Regions from separate parts of the Homo sapiens genome. Here region 2 is linked to region 1. The links come from fine-mapping of genetic effects on gene expression. A gene starts in region 1. The other region holds a variant in brackets. All regions are shown on one strand. Distances are between the middles of the regions.

Region 1 (13,762 bases):
ACAGGATCAGTCCCGTGGCCCAGAAGCCAGGCTTCCTCAGGAAAGAAAGCAGAAACATACTTCTCCATAAGGCTTCGTGAAAAAAAGAAAAAAGAAAACGAAAGCAGAAACAAACATGTGCTTTATCCTTCCTGAGGCAAAAATCGTGGTACTTGTGGGGATCTGTGTACAATCTTAACTCTGCCCGCAAAAGAGATATCACGGAGCTGGCCGCTTTGTGAGGACAAACTGGGATTGGGCCTCTTTCCTATGGGAAGACAAAAGCTACCAGAAGGTACTCCCAAAAGTCTATAAATCATGAAGGGAAAGGTAGGTTGACACTGACTTGTTAACCGAATTCCAGGCTGTGAGCAGGAAGTGGTGCATCTAGAAACTTCAAAGAGGTAAATTCAGAACCAGTATAATGAGCAAGGTGCTCACCCAGCAGGCTTTGGAGGTAGAAACCTCATTATCTCAAGAAGTGATGCAGGCTTAAAAAATAGATAGATAGATCCATGGTTGATAGTCTCACTGGTAGAGGAATGAAGATGTTTTAGGGTGAGCCTCTCATCTTTTAAAGTTAGAAGAACTACCACCACTGGTCACTGCCTGTCTTGCTGCCAGATGGATAATCCAAGGGTAGGATTTCTTATACTCATTGGGGAGAGGGTGCAGATTGAAAGGGAAGAATTTTTTTTTTTTTTTTTTTTTTTTGAGACAGAGTCTCACTCTGTCACCCAGGCTGGAGTGCAGTGTCATGATCTGGGCTCACTGCAACCTCCAACCCCCCAGTTCAAGCGATTCTCCTGCCTCAGCCTCCCAAGTAGCTGGGATTATAGGCGCCTGCCACCACGTCTGGCTAATGTTTGTATTTTTAGTAGAGATGGGGTTTACCCATGTTGGCCAGGCTGGTCTTGAACTCCTGACCTTGTGATCCACCCGCTTTGGCCTCCCAAAGTGCTAGGATTACAGGCATTAACCACCGTGCCCAGCCATGGAAAAAAAAAATTTTTTTTGAGACAGGGTCTCACTCTGTCACCCAGGCTGGAGTGCAGTGGCACAATCACGGCTCACTGCTTCAACCTCCTTGAACCTCAACCTCCCAGGCTCAAGGAATCCTCCCTCCTCAGCCCCCTGAGTAGCTGAGATTACAGGTGTGTGCCACTACGCCCAGCCAATTTATTGTATTTTTAGTAGAGATGGGGTCTCGCCATGTTGCCCAGGCTAGTCTTGAACTCCTGGACTCAGGTAAGCCACCCGCCTTGGCCTCCCAAAGTGCCGGTGTGAGCCACCACACCCTGCCTAGGAATAAATTTTTATAATTTTTTTTTAAAGGGCAGGAAAAATGGCACTTAGACTCAGGAAGAAAGAACAATGGAGGTAAAGGGAAATAATTTGGCATCCCTTCCTATCACAAGCATGTCAGATCTAGGCCAGGAACCAAGGCACCAAGATCCCCCTCTAGGCTAGCTTGGCTGAACTAGGCTGGGAATCCGGCTATCTCTTAGGGGAGGAAGGAGAAGGCACACTGGCTCGAGGTCCCCCAGGTCATGATATGTGTATAAAAGAAGAGATGAGGGGCACCCTGCCAACGTCCCCCTACCTTTGTGATCCTTGAGGCTGCGGGTCTCCAGGGCACCAGTGGACCCCGTTTCCGACTCAATATCATCCACAGATGGCCTCTCAGAAATATCCGAACGGGTTGTCTCGTCTGCTTCCTGGACACTTGTGGGACTAGAGAGGGCATCTAGCGGTCCTGGAGACATGGCTGGTGGGTCTGAGGGAGGTGAAGAGGGGCCTCCGCTGGTCCCTGCATCATCCTGCACTGAGGCTTCCAGGGATGCCGCATAGCCCAGGGATAGCGCCAACTCGTCCTGAGCAATGGGCACCTGGCAGGAGGGACGGGTTTTAATGGGCAGGAGTGACCGACCCATTAGGGCTTTCTCCCCATCCCAGCTCCTCTCCCCAGAGCCCTGTTACCTTGGAAACACCAGAGATGATGAGAGTGCTGCGCTTGGTGGGTGTCTTCTTGGCCACCCGCCCACTGGGCTCTGTCAGCTGGCGAATCGCTGTCTCTGCTACAGGGTCCAAGCCGTTGGAAAGGTGGCTGTCCCCTGCTAGGGGTGCAGAGAATGAATAACCTGACTTCTCCCTGGCTCTTTCTTGGATTGGAACTCCTCCTATCCCACCCAGAGTACTTTTTGATGCTGGGGCACCAGGGCCAACCCACACTCATGCACCCCATTCCCCACTCACGGCTGCTGCTATGGGAGGTATTGCTGGGGCCACTGCTCTCACTCAGCACAGTTGTCGTCTTCTCGGTCACCTCCACCTTGGACGGGGAGCGGGAGGGGGAGTCTGGTGGGTGGGGGAGGGTCAGTGAGCTGGGAGTTGCTTCAGAGTGGCCCCCACCCCTACTGTCTTTGTTGAGATGCAGACTTTGGGTGACTCAGAGGGCAAGAATGATTAAAGGGTGATTAATCACAAGGGTGATTAGGAAGATGCCGTGGGGACTAAAAGACACCCCAGGAGCTAATGGGAGTGTAGGAAAGTGCCATGGGGCCTGCTGAAGGTGTGGGGAGATGCTATGAAAATATGGAGCGGGGACAGAGGGGGTACTGGGGCTCCCTGAAGTTGGGGCAATTCAGTGGGGCCCCTATAATGGCAGAAGTGCCATGGGGGCCCACTGAGTGGGGTAGAAATGCCACAGAGGCCTCTGGGTTTGTTGGAGGACCCCAGGGGGTGCTGGAGGGCTGAGGGTAGCAGGATGGACAATTATAGTCAGCTGGGGCTAAGGACACCTGTGAAAAGCCAGAGGGGAAGCTGGAAGGTAGGAGTGCAACAGTCCTGTATGAGGAGGGGCAGGAGGATCCAGAAGGGTGGCAGAGTGAGAGGAATTGCTGGGGAAATGGCAGGAGGTAAGGGAAAGTTTGGAAGAGACAAAGATTGGGAGGAAGATGTGGTAGGACTGGAATGGAATGTCTGAAAACAGGGGGAGTTGGAATTAAGGCTCTCTCCTCTTTCACTGTCCTGCCTTGGGTCTGCAGTCCCGGGCCCCTGGCTAGAGCTGGGCTCCCAGGCTCCTTCTCTTTACCTAATTTGCCGTCTATACGGGGCCGGGACTGGACAGTGGTGACTGTGGTGACAATGGTGCCATCGGGCATGATGGTCCGGTCAAGCTCAATCTTCTTGGTAGGTGTGATGCTGGGGCGTGGAGTGGAGGAGGTGGGAGTACCCAGGTTCCGGGGAGAGCCCTCCTCATAGTGAAGCTGCCCAGGGGTGGGAGAGAGAAGAGACAGAGCCTCGGAGACTGCCCATCCCCTGTGTCCTCCCACCTACCCCAGGGGTCAGCTTCTCACCTCCACTGCCATGGTGGCTGCTGGTCCCAGGGCTTTCCCTGGCCCTGGGGTGAGTGGGCACAACTGTCTTCGAGACAGTGGTCTGGAGGGGGAGCCCACAGGCAGTGTGGCCTGGCCTAGGAGTTCGGCTGGGGAAAGGGATGGCACTGTGAGCTGGGCCCATGGCCAGACCCCACTCTGTACCCACCCAGGGGTGCCCCTCCCACCCCTCACTTACTGTCTCCACAGCTGCTGCTCCTCAGCACTTTGAGGGTCAGCTCCCGGCTCTGGGGGCCCAGATCCCTGTGGGACAAGAGGAGATGGGGCAGGAAGGAGAAAATTAGCAAGCTGAACCCACACTTGAGTGGATCACAGGCCAGAGGCAGAGAGCTGTGTACATAAATAAAACGGCATAAATGCTCCAATCAGATTCTCCTGGCCTCCAAATTCTCTCTCGTCCCAAGAGAAAGGGACAGGGCCTGAGTGGAAACCATGCTTCTCAGCTATGCATTCAAATCCTCCCTGGTCCTGCTCTTCCTGTCTTGCCAGTCTCTCAGTTGCAAGCCACCCTCTTTCATTTGCTCCAGCTCTTCCCTCTGCCGAGAATACTTTCACACTCTGATGAAATCCTACTCTTGCTCTAAAGTGTGGTTTAAATGTCATCTCCTCCATGAAGCCTACTCTGATCCTTATTCCCTCATGGGAATTAATCTCCCCCCCACCTAGGCACTCTGACGGCACATTACATAAACCTCAACTGGAGCGGTTTTACCATCTTCTTTATGTACACCTGTCTCTGCCTCAAGCTTGTCATTGACCCAGGGGTGGGGGCTGTATCTTGGTCAAGTCTGTATCCCTAAGACCCACGCCAGGGCCTGGCATACAATAGGAGCTCACGCCAAAGGCTACTGAAAACAGAGCTGATTCCTGCAAGGACTGTGCTGGAAAGGTTTGATCCTCTCTGCTCTGGAGCATGGGGTCGGGGCAGGGTTACTCCTTACAGTGCCAGGTCTTCTGTCCACTCCACCTCGGATCCAGCCCTCGCGGGCTTGGTCCACTTCTGCTGCATGGGGTTGTCGAGTTCAGCTACACAGCACAGTTCCTCGGTGCCTGTGATGAACCAGAAGTTAGAAGATGCTCAGATCAGAGATGGGAAGTCACTGCAGAATAAAGAGGCTGTACCCTTGGCAGAGGGGCAGAGAGCATCTGCAACCAACCATAGCCTTGGCAGTCCCGCAGCCACTTCCAGCTCTCACCTTCCAGCTCATTTCCCAAGTGAGATGCCCGAAGCTGCCGTAGGAATAACCGGTTAGGTCTGGGGATGGCTGGCTGAGCCTGGGGCATCATGGGTGGCTTCTCACTGGGTACCTAAGAGCAGAAGAAGGTCCAAAGAGCAAGAATCCTGACATAGCACCCTAGGAACAAGGTGCATGCAAATCTTTTGCTTTGGGTGCCAACTCACCAGGCCTCCTGGGGCAGAGCAAGCCCTGAGGTTGACCATCATGGCTGGCTGGGTGCTGACTATGGCATCCTTGATCAGTTCCTCAATTGTGGAGAGCTCCACTTGTTCTTCACCTCTCTGCAGAGAGAAGAAGGGAACAACAAGGAGGTGGATCCCCCACCTCTGCCTCCCTCCCCGTTCTGCCTCTTCTCTGCCAGCTCTGCCTCCTTACCTCCCTGGCCTGAAGCTTGGGAAGCACCGTTAGGCTGAGATCTGGGCGATCAGTGAAGGCCCAGGATATGAGCAGCCCCTCACCAGGGATTTCCTCCAGGTTGACTTCCAACTACAGACAGGAACAAAGTGACTGGGCTGACTTGCCCCATTTACCCAAGGACTCCTAATTCGAGGACTCTCCCTTCCTGAATTCCATCCCAGAGAGGAAACAAATGGAAGAAGCTGAGCCAATGGAACCGCCCCTGCCCAACTCAGTTTCCCACATCCCCTTCTACCTGTGTTGGTGGCAGTGTCAGAGTGACGTGGTAGGTCTCCATGGAGACGGCAGCGGGGGACTGCTGGGTCACAGAGACTGGGAACCGCACCTCCTCAGCAGAGAGCTGGCAACGCAGCACCTGAGACCGGCGAGGTGGGTCAGATGTGGGGGAAGGGTGCTCACCCTGCTTTGAACTGCCCTGTAATAGTTCAGCAGACCCCTCCCCACTTCCGTTTTCCTAAGGACTTCATGTTTTCAGGATCATAAATCCCTAAAAGAATCAGATAAATGCCAAAGACTCCTCTCCCCAGAAAAATGCATATAAACACACATCCAACATTTTGCACATAACTTCAATGGGATTCTCAGACTTCCTGAAACCAATCCTTAGATCCATAAGGCATTCACAGACTCCAGGTTAAGAACCTCTGGACTAAAGGGAGCCCTTGGGGTCAGTCCTTCTTGGACCCCAAAGAGGGCAGTGCCCATCAGACCCTTACCATGGTATGCTCAGATTGGTCTACGCAGGTCACATGACTGATGCTGGCTCTGGGTGGGAGTTGGGGCACCTCCTCAAAGGCGATTTGGATGGAGCTCTGAGGGAGTAATGTGGGCATTGGATCAGGTCTCTGGAGCTGCCCCCCACAGGGTTGGCCTGCTCAGTTGCTGGCTGGACTCTGCCACTGCGGAGGCCTCAGCTGCAGGCTGGCTTCTGGCCCCTCCTTGGCTCAGGGCTTTAAGACAGGAGGTAGTCCCCTCAAGGCCTGCCTCTCCAGGGGCCTGTAGCTGCTAGGAGCCACTGAGCAATGGGGAGGTAGTCCACCTCAGAGACTAGATCACCTTAAGCTGAAGACCCTGGCTTCCTCCTGGAATACCAAGAGCTTCCTTCTTCTTCTCCCTGCAATCCCTTTCATCCCCTACCCTACCCCCTAAAAAAACAAATAACAAACAAACAAAAAATCCTACATAGAAAAAAGTTAAGGTGCTGGTTGCCACCTATATATAATAGCTGGGCAGAGGGAAAGGGCTAAGCCCCGGTAAAGGTGGTAGAGCCACCTTGTTCAAGATAAGAGCTGCAGAAATGAAGCTAAGCCTTCTTCCAAATAAATAAGATGTGGAGGCTTCAAGAGTATGATGCTTCATATTCTTGGAGATGAAGATGAGCATGGCCTTGGGGATCCGTACCAGGGGGACTGGGAAGAGATACAAGCTCAGAGGACCCAAGAGTCCAGGGGCCTGGCTAATTCCTCAAGGCAGATAGCAGGACGGTATTAGAGAGCAGAAAGCTGCTTAGATCTCAAAAGAGCTGCTCCCTAATTCGTCCACAGTAATGGAAGCAACCTACCGCAGCCCCACCTGGAGAGCAGTGCGGACACAGAATTGAGGAAGGGGCACAGAATTGGCTGGCAACTCTTCCTTGGGTCTTGAGATGGAGGAAACAAATCCATAGGGTTCATTTGCTTGGCAAACCAGGGGAAGCCAACTCCTTTGCTCTGGTAGCTGTCTCATTCAAAGGCTAGGCCAAGGAAGATGGGGAGATGGATGCTTGAAACCTCAATCTCCCCACCCTCTGCAAGGGAGGCCAATGTCCAGTTGAGTCAGCTATCCTGGGGAGTTGCTTCTGACCGAGGGACAAGGTACAGGGAGAGTTGGATGAAGAGGTGGGTTCAAGGTGTAAACTGACAGATGCCATCTGGCTTTTAGCCAGCCAGCTGGACAGAGTAAATAGAGCAATTTCTTGTGGACATTTCTGTTTCCGGCATCTGGGGAACTAGTAAGGTAAAGCCTCCAAACTCATAGTGGCTGGAAATAGAGAACCCTCTGAGCAAGGAGCTGATGGACTGTGAGAGCAAGGAGAGATTGCTGGGTCAGGATGGGAGGGAGCTCCAGAAAAGAGAGACTTCTACCTCCCACCTTATCTCCATCTCATGACCACGCTTCCTGCCCCACTTCCTGGGAGGCCAGATGCCCATGGTGCAATGGGAGGAAGTAGGCTGGACTGGTTTGTGACTGACCCTCAAGGGGCAGTTCCAAGCTCATCTACTGGTAGGGGCACTGTCAATCTGCTCTCCACCTGAACACTCCCCAACCCCCAGTGAACCACAGGCCAGCATGGAGGAGAAGGATGTGTTTGACTGTAGCAGTGAAATTACTGTCGGGTAGGGGGGTGATTCAGGCTCCTTGGGGATCTGCCTGACCACACCAGGGATTTGGGGCATGAAATGTTAAATGGGTGTGGTGGCATGAGAAGCAGGCAAATTCCTTCTGCAGGTGCACCTGTCTCCCATGCCCCAACACAACCAGCACCCAGGCAAGGCGGAAGTGCCCTCAGGCACAGGGATTAGCGTTGCTATGAGAACAGCAACTTGTGCATGGGTTTGGAACCAGAGTACCTTGCCCACAGAAATGGAAGTCTGGGGACCCAGTTGGATTTCTACAACCTCCAGCCTTAGCGGCACCCTTTTCTCTGATCCGGGAGGGGAAGAGAAGCCATAGGGTTCCCCAGTTTATGCCCACCCTCGTCTGGCCTCCTAGCACGAGCAGTCAGTCCCTCCCCTGGAAGGAAAGGCTGAAGGGACCACCCAAGCGCTTGGTCCAACTCACCCCGTTTCTGCAGGCCTGCTCGTTCAGCGCTCGCACCCAAGCCCGCTGCCAGTTCTCCCGGAAAGACTTGAAGGCGAAGAGTGACGCCAGGAGGCCCCGGACTCCTGGCTCCTCGGCGGCGCCAGCCCGAGTCGCCCGCAGCCGCAGCAGCGAGCGCCACACGCCCAGCTCCCGCAGGGAACCCGCGGGTTCCCCGGCTAAGGCGGGTCCCGGGCCCCGGTCCCCGCGGGCCCGCGCCAGCCACAAGCCCCGGGCATATTGCAGCAGCCAGGCGAACACCGTGAGCAGCGAGGCGGCGAAGAGGATCAGCAAGGCCGCCCAGCCCACGTCCCGCTGCCCCCAGCCCGGATCCATGCTCCGCGCGGGCTCCGATCCCGGTCCCGGCTGGGGCTCACCCGCTGCCCCGGGGGAGCATGGCCCGGGCGGGCCGCGGGGAGGAGGTGGGCTCCCCCGGGGCTGGGCGCGCGGGGTCGGGGGCTCTCCGCGGCTGAGTGCCCAGGACTAGTGGGTGCCACAGGGCGAGGAGAGGAGGTCCTCGGGGGTCGCGATGCCGGGGTCTCTGTCTCCGTGGTCCGGGTCTCTCCTAGCTTGGTCAGCAGTCGGACCCGTTAGTCGCCGGCCAGTGCCCGACTCCTCCCACCGCGCGGGCCCCGCCGGACCCTGGAGGGGACTGGTCTGCAGAGACGCTGGGGCTCGCGGGCCGGCACCGGCTCCGGGAGGGCTGCGTGCGCAGAGCTGACACTGACAACACCGCCGGCGCCCCGCCCCCACCCGCCCTTAAAGGAGCCGCACCCGCGCCGGGCGGGGCCAGGACAGCCTGGCGCTCCCTCGCTGGAGGAGGGCGGGAGGGCTAGCAGCGAGCGGAGGAGGTTCCGGGGTTGAAAATAGGCGGGATCTTTGATCACCTCGCCCCATCTTGCAATCGCGGTGCTCCCACACTCAGCTCAAGGCAAGAGTAACTTCACTTACCTAAGATGCTGCCTTTGCTTTCCCCTATGCTTGTTAGATTTCCACAGGTCGGACGCCTGTGAGGTTAAGAAGGAGGTGACCCCTGTGGAAATCACCGCCCCCTTCTCCCAACACCCCCAGACTCAGCGACTTCTAGCTTCCCATTTCCTGGGGGAAGCTAGGCCCAGGGTAAGGAGACGCAGAGCGTCCCTCCCAGATAGAAGTGTCTGGCAGAGGTCCAGCTGATGTCAACAGAGAGAAAGCAGAACCTGAAGCTGGGAGAGGTTGAGAGTAGAACACCGAATTTGAATTCCCCCCACCATCATCACCCTCCTTCCTCTTGGAGCTTGGACCCAGAAACAGCCCCATTAACCTCCTTGCTCGTGTAGGTTTGTTCTGGAGATTCCCAAGCCCAGGCTGTGTGTCTGTTTTTAAAAATAATGTATTTCCATAGTAACAGCTCCTGCCTATGGAGCACGTGTAGAGGGGGTGGTAATGACAAGGGAGCTGGCAATGTAGCACTGGACTATCAATAGATTCAGCCACAAGACCTTGCCACTCTAAGTATGTGATATCCCAACAAGCTCCCAAGAAATGGTGCTGTAGGTACACTGCCCAACCTCTGGCCTCAGAAGCCATCTTTTCCTAGACTCAAGGAGTTGATTCAACCTCTACAGGACTGGGGCTCATCAATGCTTGCTGAGGACAGGGGAAGGAAATACCTGCAAAAGGATTCAAAGGAATCCTGGGGGAATTCACATTCTCCCAAGAGCCCCTTCTTCATACATGTGGGAAGGTCTTTGGCACACAGTCCCTTTCTTAAAGAGGTAGGATGGAAAGGTGTTAAGTATCTTTCTCCCAAACCCAAGTAGTTGTCTGAGGAATGAGCACATGAGAATAAGAGAATAAACAATGCCTTCTGAAGTGTGGGATGGCAGGGCTAGACAGAAACTGACAGGTCAGCAACAGGTTTGTCTGAGCCAGAGGAGGTGGTGGGGTAGCCTGGGCCTCCCTAGATTTCCCTGTAAGGAATGATGGGGAGAGGTGGGGGTGAATGAGGTAACCTCCTGTGGCCCTGCCCATGCATTGTCACTGGACTGCCAAATCAGTGGAGATTCCTAGAGTCTGGGTTTCTAATCTCAAAGGGAGGAGAAGACATGAAATCAAGGGAGGAGAGAACTCAGGGCCAGAACCAGGGATGCAGGAGGAAGCTGTCAGTGGGAAGAGCAGCTAGGGTTTAGGGGAGCAGGTTATGCAGGAAGTTGTCCAGGTAGAAGCTTTCCCTATGAAGACCCTCTTCCCCCAAGAATCCTTCAGGAACCCTCAGACCCCCTAGTGATCTCCATTCTCTGACTTCTTTGATTTATTCCCTCAACTTCTCCACTGAGTGCTTGGTCCTATGCTGCCAGATACTGCTTCACAATTCAGTATCTGAACTGTGAGTCTACCTAGTTACATGAGTCTCCCTAGTTAGTCCTCCCTCTTTTTTTTTTTTTTTTTCTCTTTTCTTGAGACAGAAAGTCACTGTTGCCCAGGCTGGGGTGCAGTAGCGAGATCTTGGCTCACTGCAACCTCCACCTCCCAGGTTTGAGTGATTCTCCTGCCTCAGCCTACCAAGTAGTTGGGACTATAGGCATGCGCCATCATGCCTGGCTAATTTTTGTTATTTTTAGTAGAGACAGGGTTTCACCATGTTGGCCAGGCTGATCTCGAACTCCTGACCTCAGGTGATCCTCCCGCCTCGGCCTCCCAAAGTGCTGGGATTACAGGTGAGAGCCACTGTGCCCAGCCTAGTCCTCCTTCTTTCTTCCATTACTTAGACCTCTAGCACTTACATTCTGCCTTAGAGTCTAGCTGATTGTTTATATGTCTGCTTTTTCCATGCATCAGGAAGCTGCCTAGGGGTGGGAACCATGTCTTAGTCATCTCTTTTCCCTCAAATTCAACCAAGATGCTCCAAATATGCTGAAGTAGACTCCCTGGGGGCAAGCAACTGCAATTATATTAGTTTGTATCCTCCACAGTACTGAAGAGCTTCCTATGCACATAGTAGGGATTAACAAACTTTGTAATTTTAAGAAGTCTAACAGAAAATACTCAAGTATGCTTTGAGAATTTCTATGCCATTTCTGTCTTTTGAAATATCATTCATGCCATACCAGTGGAATGGGAAATCCTGGGGCTTGCTTTTAATTAACAACTTTTTTCTAGACTAAGAGGGGAGAGGTGGGAGGAAAAGGAAAAAGAGTGATTCAGCTGACTGGACAGAGCCACAGATAGAGTCCTGCAAGTATCACAGCCCCAGACTATCCAGAGGGGTCTCATTGTCTTTGTGGCACTATGAAACATTTTTGGGACAGGCTTTGTCTAGCAATCACATTCAGTGGATTGGCCTTGCTCATTGGGAGCCACTCAAGGCTACTTAGAAGAGGTGTGCATCTCAAACACTGTCTGCTCAGTCCAGGGCCACTGACAAGTCAACTGGTCTGTGAATCCTAGGGCCGGCTTCAGCATTCAGGAAAACGCTTTGAACTTTTACCAGGGAAGGCACACAATTTCAAGTGAAGCCAAAAGTCATGTGTTTGTTTCTCCTTCTGATTAGTCTGATCATCAACTGGGACTTTATCATCATGGGAACAAAAATACTCAGATTATCTGACAAGTATCTTAGTAACCATTTTCTGATAGTAACATGTATATGTGGATGATGAATCCTTAGTCTCTCTTGTCTTTGATTACATCCTTCCACCCTCCCCAGGAGGGTGGTGGTAGGGAGGGCTAATGATCTCTGGAGAAGAAAGAGATAAAGCTTCCCAATACCAGGCTGGGAAGGAAGATTTATTAGGATTGGCCTCCTAATAAAAAAGGAAATAGATACAGACTGGCTCTCAGACCTCCAGGGAGTCTCAGTATACTCGTCATCAACAAGATAACTGAATGCTGCCTCCTCTGGGATCCCACAAGCTCCTCCTTTCCACCAGCTTCTGGTGTCTCACTGTCGCTGCCTGTGAAAGGTCCTTCTACTCTTATAATCTACTGAAATGATACTTCTCTTCCTCAAGACCACTTACTCTGGTCACAACTAATTGCTCCCTCCATATGCACCTATTGCCCTCAGTCCTCCTTTCAGCCTCAGCCTCATTATGTGTGATGATGCCTTCCTTGTACACAGATGTCTGTGTTCCTAGCCCCATGGGGACACCCTGTGGAAGAGAAAACACTTGCCTCCCGGGAGTTTCTAGTTTAAAAGGGGCACACGTGCATACACACAACACACACAGAAAAATAATAGCAGTGGGATAAGTACTGAAAATCTGGTGGAATACTAGCAAGTAAATTACGAAAATTTATGTATTTTATACATATCTGGGTTTTTGTTGTTGTTAATTAGAGCCATTTTCAAGTAGAAAAGCCATTTCACATCTGATTTAGTTTGTTTGTTTGTTTGTTTTGAGACAGTTTCCCCTCTGTTGCCCAGGCTGGGATGCAGTGGCATGATCGCGGCTCACTGCAACCTCCTCATCCCAGGTTCAAGCGATCCTCCTGCCTCAGCCTCCTGAGTAGCTGAGATTACAGGCATGTGCCACCACACCCGGCTAATTTTTGTATTTTCAGTAGAGACGGGGTTTCACCGTGTTGGCCAGGCTGGTCTCGAACTCCTGACCTCAAGTGAGCCACCCACCTTCGCCTACCAAAGTGCTGGGATTACAGACGTTAGCCACTGCGCCCGGCCTCACATCTGATTTTGAGGGAAAGAAGAAACTATCTTCGGCTTAAAAACGGTCAACATGACCCTGACTCCTGGAACATGCCATAGAGGGAAGAGTGGACAAAGCGCTAGGCTATTGGAGTCCTTTCCCTAACTCACTGGTGGTGACTTCCTCTCTGACAAATGGAAATCATTTGCCGCCTAAGAGCCTGTCGGGGAATGAAAGGTAATAAAGATGCTGGTGAACTGGCTGGGCGTGGTGGCTCACGCCTGTACTCCCAGCATTTTGGGAGGCCAAGGCGGGCAGATCACCTGAGGTCGGGAGTCCCAAACCAGCCTGACCAACATAGGGAAATCCCGTCTCTACTAAAAATACAAAATTAGCCGGGCGTGGTGGCGCATGCCTGTAATTCCAGCTACTGCCTGTAATCCCAGCTACTCGGGAGGCTGAGGCAGGAGAATCTCTTGAACCTGGGAGGTGGAGGTTTCGGTGAGCCGAGATCGCGCCATTGCACTCCAGCCTGGGCAACAAGAGCGAAACTCTGTCTCAAAAAAAAAAAAAAAAAAAAAAAAAAAAAGCTGGTGAATTGTTGTTTGCAGGGGAACAGGCCAAGCAAAATGCACAGCAACCTGCAGGAGGCCAAGCAAAATGCACAGTGACCTACAGGAAGAAACCTGACTGGGAGTTCCTCAGACTCACAGGAAATCAGTTGTGGGTCTGATTCCTCTCCCTCCTCAGCTCTTTCCAGAGCCTCAGCCTGGAAATCTCCATCTCCTCCTTGTGGGAGCTAGGTACAATGCAGTGATCCACGGCCAAGCTGAAGTCTCGAGTTAAATCCAAGACCTGAGGGTACTCCCAATCCCTCAGTGAAGTGCTGCGCTGGGTTGCCGGGCAACTAACTGCTACAGCTGGGGCAGAAGGTGGGTGGGATGCTGAGAAAAAAATACCAGAATCGAGGACAAGAAAAACAGAGTGGGAGGGGCTTTTCAAGGATCTACGCTTTAGAATTTACACCATCCTTCCAAATCGTAGCTTTGTTTCCGGGAACTGAGTTGTGTTTACCTTGGCTTCCGACTATGTTGGCAACAGGTTTCCTGCAAGAAACAGGCGCGTCTCCACACCCTCGTCCCTCCTCCCCACCCCCTGCCTTTCAATAGCCATCTTCCTGGAGCCGGAGGCATCCCAGATTAAGGGAGAGGTACGGGCCCTTTAAGCTTGACCTATGGAGGCGGACGGAGCTAAAACTGACGTG
Region 2 (8,000 bases), 130 kb before region 1:
ATGAAAACAGGTGCAAAACCCAGAAAGATCAAAGGCAAAACAGAGGCTTATGGTTTTACTTAATTCATTTTTTATAAAGTCTAAGAAAAATGAGGGCAAATTTATCTTTGGAGAACTTAAACCAGCTAATAATAACTAAAATAAAATCATGAAGCAACAATACTATACAATAATAGATAGAATTATGTACATTCTTTTTTATTTTTTATTTTTTATTTTTGAGATGGAATCTAACTCTGTCGCCCAGGCTAGAGTGCAGTGGCACAATCTCGGCTCTGCAACCTCCACCTCCCAGGTTCAAGTGATTCTCCTGCCTCAGCCTCCCGAGTAGCTGGGATTACAGGTGCCCGCTACCACACCTGGCTAATTTTTGTATTTTTAGTAGAGACGGGGTTTCACGATGTTAGCCAGGCTGGTCTTGAACTCCTGACCTCAGGTGATCCACCCACCTCAGCCTCCCCAAGTGCTGGCATTACAGGCATGAGCCACTGCACCCAGCCAATTATGTACACTCTTATAGAGAAGATTTAAGAGACTGGCTCCTCAACACCCAAAAAACTAGGAACAAACTCCCCCATGCACATGGCTATGAAGGAACACATATGTCTCCCAAGCCACAGTCGATTAGTCTAGAGGTCTGCAACTGGCCTCTGCTGTACTAATCCCAGTACTTAACCTCTCCTTCCAGAGGTTGGTCCAGGGACAATCAAATGCTCTATACCAAGCCAAAGTGAAAACTGGAACTAAGAGTCATATCTTCTGCTACAGCAGAAACTCTTAAGATATAAAACTTGGGTGTAATAGAGACCAAACTTTTCTGCAATTTACGCATTAATCTGCACTGAGTATGGAAGTAATACCAGAAGAATCAAAGAGAACAGACAGAGTCCTGGCAACATTTCAATCCTGGTTTCAGTTGTTCCTGAGGCTTACCTGCATTCTTGCCTTTAGTGCAATTTTTCTTTTTCTTTCTTTTTTTTCTTTTTTTTTTTAATTGGTAACAGTCTCACCCTGTCACCCAGGCTGGAGTGCAGGGGCATGATCTCAGCTCACCGCAAACCTCCACCAACCGAGTTCAAGCAATTCTCGTGCCTTAGCCTCCCAAGCAGCTGGGATTACAGGTATATGCCACCATGTCCAGCTAATTGTTTTGAATTTTTTAGTAGATATGGGGTTTCACTATGTTGGCCAGGCTGGTCTCCAACTCCTGACCTCAAGTGATCTGCCCACCTCAGCCTCCCAAAGTGCTGGCATTACAGGCGTGAGCCACCATGCCCAGCCTCTTTAGTGCAATTTAAGATACTCATTTTTTCTAGAATTTTATGAGTCAACAAGTTTCTACTTTGGCTTATTCAAACTAGTTTTCTTTTCAAGATTCTTTCTATGTACTATATTTAACTAGCACTCAGCTGTCCACAACTCACCTATCAAAAAAAGAAAAACCACGAATGAAACATAAAAGGTCTCTAACAACTGTTTATGATAAAACAAAAAAGCAAAAAAAAAACAACAACCAAAAACTGAAAAACAAGACATGTAAGGAAACTTCTTTAACCTGATGAAAAGCCTTTACAAAAATCTCACAGCTAATATACTCAATGGTGAAAGGCTGAACATTTTCCTCCTCAATACCAAAAAGACAAAGATGGCCACTCCTGATATTCCTATTCAACATAGCCAAGAATAATTAGGCAAGAAAAAGAGATAAAATGCATGCAGAAAGAAAAGGAAGAAGTAAAACTACCTCTAATTGCATGTGACATGATCTGGTATCTAGGAAAGCCTAAGGAACCTACTAAAAAGCTACTAGAGCCAATAAGTAAGTTCTGCAAAGTTGTGGAGTACCAGATCAACATACAGAAGTCAACTATGTTTCTATATATGAACCTAAAATTAACAATTCCATTTACAATAGCATCAAAATGAACAAAATAGGAATAAACTTAACTAAGAAGGCAAAAAACTTGAACACTGAAAACTACAAAACATTACTGAAATACATTAAAGAAGATATAAGTAAGGCCAGGCAAGGTGGCTCATGCCTATAATCCCAGCACTTTGTGAGGTGGAGATGGGCAGATTGCTTGAGCCCAGGAGTTTGAGACCGGCATGGGCAACACGACGAAACCTCGTGTCTACAAAAAAATACAAAAATTAGCCAGGCATGATGGTGCGCACCTGTGGTCCCAGCTACTAGGGAGACTGAGGTGGGAGGATCACCTGAGCTTGGGAGGTGAAGGTTGCAGTGAGCTGAGATTGAGTCACTGTACTCCAGCCTGGGCAACAACAGAGTGAGACTCTGTCTAAAACAACAAAGACAAAAATGAATAAAAATATAAGTGGAAATATATCCAGTATTCATGTAGCGGAAAACAGTATTGTTAAGATGGCAGTAATCCCCAAAATGATCGGCAGATCTAATACAATATCTACCAAAATTCCTGCTGCTCTTGTTTACTTGAGATGAACTCTCGCTCCGTTGCCCAGCCTGGAGTGCAGTGGCTTGATCTCGGCTCACTGCATCCTCCGCCTCCTGGGTTCAAGAGATTCTCCTGCCTCAGCCTCCAGAGTAGCTGAAATTAGAGGTACTCGCCAGCACACCTGGCTAATTTTTTGTATTTTTAGTAGAGACGGGATTTCACCACACCGGCCAGGCTGGTCTCAAACTCCTGATCTCAGGTGATCCACCTACCTTGGCCTCCCAAAGTGCTGGCATTACAGGTGTGAACCACCACACCCAGCCCCTGCTGCTCTTTTTGATAAGAAAACATTGTATTTAGGGGTCGGGCACAGTGGCTCACTCCTGCAATCCCGGCACTTTGGGAGGCCGAGGCGGGCGGGTCACATGAGGCCAGGAGTTCGAGACCAGCCTGGCCAACATGGTAAAGCCCCATCCCTACTAAAAATAGAAAACTTAGCCAGGGGTTGTGGTGCATGTCTGTAATCCCAGCTACTCAGGAGGCTGAGGCAGGAGAATCGCTTGAACCCGGGAGGCAGAGCCAAGGTCATGCCACTGTACTCCAGCCTGGGTGACGGAGCAAGACTCTATCTATTAAAAAAAAAAAAATTGTATTTGGGATCAAATTGACAGGCTGATTCTAAATTCATGCAGAAATTCAAGGGAGGCTGGGCACAGTGGCTCACACCTGCCAGCATTTTGGGAGGCTGCAGTGGGCAGATCACTTGAGGTCAGGAGTTCAAGACCAGCCTGACCAACATGGTGAAACCCCGTCTCTAGTGAAAATGCAAAAATTAGCTGGGATTGTTGGTGCACACCTGTAATCCCAGCTACTCAGGAGGCTGAGGCAGGAGACTCGCTTGAACCTGGCAAGAAGAGGTTGCAGTGAGCCAAGATGGCGCCACTGCACTCCAGCCTGGGTGACAGAGTGAGACTTCATCTCAAAAAAAAAAGAAATACAATGGATCCAGAATAGCAGCCAAAACAATCTTGAAAAACAAAGCTGAGGAACTCACACTTCTTGATTCCAAAGCTTTAGTACAAAGCTACAGTAATCAAGATGGTGTGGTACTAGCATTAAGATAGATATGTAGATTAATGAAATGAAACTGAGAGTCCAGAAATAAACCCTTACACTTATGGTCAACTTACTTCCTTCCTAAAATGGCAACAAGTCCATGCAATTAAAAAGGACAGACTTTTCAACAGATGGTGCTGAGACAAAGGGATATCCACATGCAAGAGAATCAAGTTGGACCTCTACCTCATACCATATACAAAAATTAACTCAAAAATGGATCAAAGACCTAAATACAAGAGGTAAAACTATAAAATAGGAAAAAACAGGCCTCATGACCTTGAATTAGGCAATAATTTCTTAAAAGTACAAAAACCAAATAAATATTGGTCTTCACCATAATTAAAAACTTTTGTGATTCAAGGCATACTGTTAAGAAAGTGAAAAGATGACCCACAGAATGGGAGTAAAGTTTTGCAAATCATGTATCTGGTCTAGCATCCAGAATATGAAGGAAAATCTTACAACTCAACAATGAAAAGACAAATAATGCAA[C/T]TTTAAAATGGGCAAAGGATTTGAATAGATGTTTCTCCAAAGAAGATAAATAGTCCCCCTTTGCATTCCAAGATGTGCAGATGCCTGAAACCACAGATAGTACTGAACCCTGTGTATATTATGTTTTCTCACTCTGATAACTAAGATAGCTACTAGGTGACTAATAGGTGCTAGTGTATACAGCATGGAGATGCTGTACAAAGGGATGCTTTGCATCCCAGCTGGGATAAAGTAGAACGTTGTGAAATTACATCACACTACTCTGAAGGGCATGCAATTCAAAATTTATGAATTATTTCTAGAATTTTCCATTTAATATTTTCAAACCATGGTTGACTGCCAGTAACTGAATCCAAGGAAGGTTAAACTGAGGATAAAGGGGGACAACTATATACAAACATCCAAGAGGCACATGAAAAAGTATTCACATGCATTTCAAAACCTCAAGACACCACTTTACCCCTAGTAGAATAGCTGTAATAAAAAAAGTCAATAGCAATTGTTAGCAAAAAATCAGAACCCACATACATTGCTAGGGGAAAGAAAAATGGTACAGCTACTGTGGAAATAGTTTGGAGGTTACTCAAAAGTTGAACACAGAATTACCATATGACTCAGCAATTCCACTCCTATGGGTATATATATATATATATATATATATATACTCAAAAGAAGTGAAAACATATATGTATATATGTTTATATGGCTATAGCCATACAAAAACTGGCACATAATCATAGCAACATTATTCAGTAGTAGCCAAAAAGTAGAAATGACAAAAATATCATAAACAAAATATGGTATATCCATACATTGAAATATGACTTAGCCATAAAAAGGAATGAGGTACCAATACATGCTACAATATGGGTGAATTGTAAAAACATTCTAAGCGAAAGAAGACACACAAAAAAAAACCACAAAAGGCCACCGTTATGTGATTCCACTTAACACGAAACGTCCAGAGCAGGCAAATCCACATAGACAGAAAGCAGGTATTAGTGATTACCAAGCGCCAGGGGAGATCCAGAGAGAGGAACAAAGAGTGACTGCTAATGGGAGTGGGGTTTCCTGTTGGGGGGTGAAAATGTTCTGGAATTACAGAGGGGTGATGGTTGCCTGACTTTGCGAATACACTAAAAACCACTAAATTGTACACTTTAAAAGGGCAAATTTTATGGTATGTGAATTATATCTCAATTTAAAAACTGAATAGGAAAAAAAAACCTCTAAGTAATCAAAAAGACCACAAAGATCATTCGCAAAAACCCTATATATTTTTCCCTATTTACAAAAACCCTTTCAACCTGAGAAAGTTGATTGAAAAAATGAACTCCTTGATTCTCACTTGAAATCTGTTTACTCTCATTTTACATATAATTTGTACAAATCAAATCCATAAAATATTAAAAGCCTCATGTTAGGGGGAATAAAATTGATACAGACAGGCACACTGACAGTGAGGTTTAAAAAGAGGCAAAAGAACTTGTCAACATGTACTGAAGTCATTTGGTAACGGCAAATTAGATATAGTTGAGCCTTAACAACATGGGTTTAACTGTGTGGATTCACTTATACACAGACTTTTTTTTCATTATAAGTCACACCAAGTGTGCCTGCCTCTCCTGCCTCCCCTTCCACCCCCTCCACCTATTCTGCCTCTACCACAGAAAAACCAGTACTGGAATTTTCAGTACCAAGACAGCAGCCAACCCCTCCTCTTCCTACTCCTCCTCCTCAGCCTATTCAACCTGAAGACAATGAGGATGAAGACCTTTATGAGGATCCATTTCCACTTACTGAATAATAAATGTTTTATCTTCCTTATGATTTTAGTAACATTTTCTTTTCTCTAGCACACTTTATTGTGAGAATACATATAAAATAGAGGCCAAGGCGGGCGGATCACTTGAGGCCAGGAGTTTGAGACCAGCCAAGCCAATATGGTGAAACCCTGTCACTACTAAAAATACAAAAAAATCAGCCCAGCATGATGCACACACCTGTAATCCCAGCTACTCGGGAGGCTGAGGCAAGAGAATTGTTTGAATGCGGGAGGCAGAGTTTGCAGTGAGCCAATATCACTCCTTTGCACTCCAACCTGGGCAACAGAGTGAGACTCCATCTCAAAAAAAAGAAAAAAAATAGAAAAAAGAAATGCTCTTTAAAATAAACCTGTTCTATGACAGCCTATCATCTATAAGAGAAAGTCTAGAGGTCAAAAAACAGCCCTTTACAATCTGACTTCAACCCGTCTTTCCAGCGTATCTGTCTCCCACAATTCTAACCAAACCAAACTTCTCATTTTAAACATACCAGAGCCTCCATTTTCATGCCACTGTGTTAAAAGACTTTTCTTGACTTCTCTGCCTAGAAAATTCCTATTTATCCTTCAAACTCTAATTCAAATTACAAGTCCTCTATGCCACCTTCTCTAATGCCACTGGACAAAACTGTATTCGCACAGCACTTTTTAAATGTTTCATTTATTTTAAGAAGAGTTCTCGCTGTGTTGCCCAGGCTGGTCTCAATTTCTTGTGCTGAAATAATCCTCCCACCTCAGTCTTCTGAGTAGCTAGAATTACAGGTGCATGTCACTGTGCCCGGCTCCCAACAGAATTTTGTACATATCTCTATTAATGCATTTGTCATATTACCTCAAATTTGAATGCTTAACTTTCCTTTTCACCTCCTAGAACCAGAACCTAGTTCACGTACATGGTAAACAAAATTTTTAAGTTTTGGTACCTCATGAATTAAAATTATTTTTTAGAAACTCAGCAATACAATACAAAATGACTAGTTAGCTAAAAGGTCCATACAGTCGAGGTTTTAACAAAAGTTACAAAATCTGAATATTTAAAAGGAATAAAGTTCACTTCCAAATAAACGAGAAGTTACAAAGGCTCTTACGGATTGAATTCACTCAGAATCTTTTTAAGAAAAGATGGACAGGCCAGCTGAAGTGGCTCTCAACTGTAATCCCAACACTTTGGGAGGCTGAGGCAGGCGGATCCCCTGAGGTCAGGAGTTCAACACCAGCTTGCCAACATGGCAAAACACCATCTCTACTAAAAATACAAAAATTAGCCGGGCACAGCGGTGCATGCTTGTAATCCCAGCTACTAAGGAGGCTGAGACAGAAGAATCACTTGAACCCAAGAGGCGGAGGTTGCGGTGAGCCAAGATCACACCACTGCACTCCAGCCTGGGTGACAACAGCAAGACTCCGTCTCAAACAAAACAAAACAAAACAAAAGAAAGAAAGAAAGAAAAGATGGACATTTTGAGTCCATTACTCAGACTACACCTGAGTAATTTGTTGCAATAACGGTAATATGGATAATCATGTGCATAAAATTTTAATTGAAAGCTAGGGTTGCCAGAATCTAGGCCAACAGGCCCAAAGGAAAGGTAGACAACAAGGACACCATTTAGTATGTTACTGCTAGAGTCATGCATGGTAACCAGATGACTTCAGAAATACTGTTCCTTCTAATTCAAGTCACTACTCAAGAATAATTTACTCACTAAAAAATTCTAGTGGAATTATTTTATTACTCATTCTAGATGAGTTAATATTTAGTTCAAATTGAACAAAATAAAACACAATTACATCCACACATACAGTTAACTTATTTCTCTCCCAGTATGTAATTTACGACAGCTAAGCTAACAATATGCAGGATAGCCTATAGTTTCTGGTATTTAATTAACACAAAAGAGGGCCAGGCGTGATGGCTCACATCTGTAATCCCAGCACCTTGTGAGGCCAAAGCGGGCAGATCACCTGAAGTCAGGAGTTCGAGACCAGCCTGGCCAAGATGGTGAAACCCCATCTCTACTAAAAACACAAAAATTAATCAGGCATGGTGGTGCACATCTATAATCCCAGCTAGTCAGGAGGCTGAGACAGGAGAATCACTTGAACCTGGAGGCTGAGATCGCACCACTGCACTCCAGCCTGGG

Direction of the effects. Positions count from the first base shown, and alleles are read on the strand shown. Sizes are in standard deviations (SD) of each study's normalised expression.
For the expression in sun-exposed skin of the gene that starts at base 8,604 in region 1, allele T in region 2 goes with a lower level than allele C (moderate effect, 0.47 SD a copy in GTEx).

The links.
Region 2: its variant is fine-mapped to the expression of C2CD2L in sun-exposed skin (GTEx, PIP 0.94).

The regions. Positions count from the first base shown.
Region 1 is chr11:119,102,186-119,115,947 of GRCh38, reverse strand. C2CD2L (C2CD2 like) reads right to left here and starts at 8,604. Exons shown (of 14, transcript NM_001290474.2): 1 at 7,853-8,604; 2 at 5,749-5,844; 3 at 5,268-5,387; 4 at 4,991-5,101; 5 at 4,780-4,896; 6 at 4,574-4,685; 7 at 4,319-4,427; 8 at 3,556-3,620; 9 at 3,339-3,466; 10 at 3,074-3,248; 11 at 2,236-2,337; 12 at 1,960-2,093; 13 at 1,583-1,868. The coding sequence starts at 8,206. RefSeq lists silencers at 7,970-8,249, 8,320-8,769 and enhancers at 12,827-13,539, 13,751-13,762, 13,243-13,762.
Region 2 is chr11:119,233,291-119,241,290 of GRCh38, reverse strand. The region is part of intron 2 of CBL (Cbl proto-oncogene); the gene reads right to left. Among named protein-coding and RNA genes, the nearest start is that of CBL, 31 kb to the right of the region's middle. The variant C/T (reference allele first, on the strand shown) is at 4,032.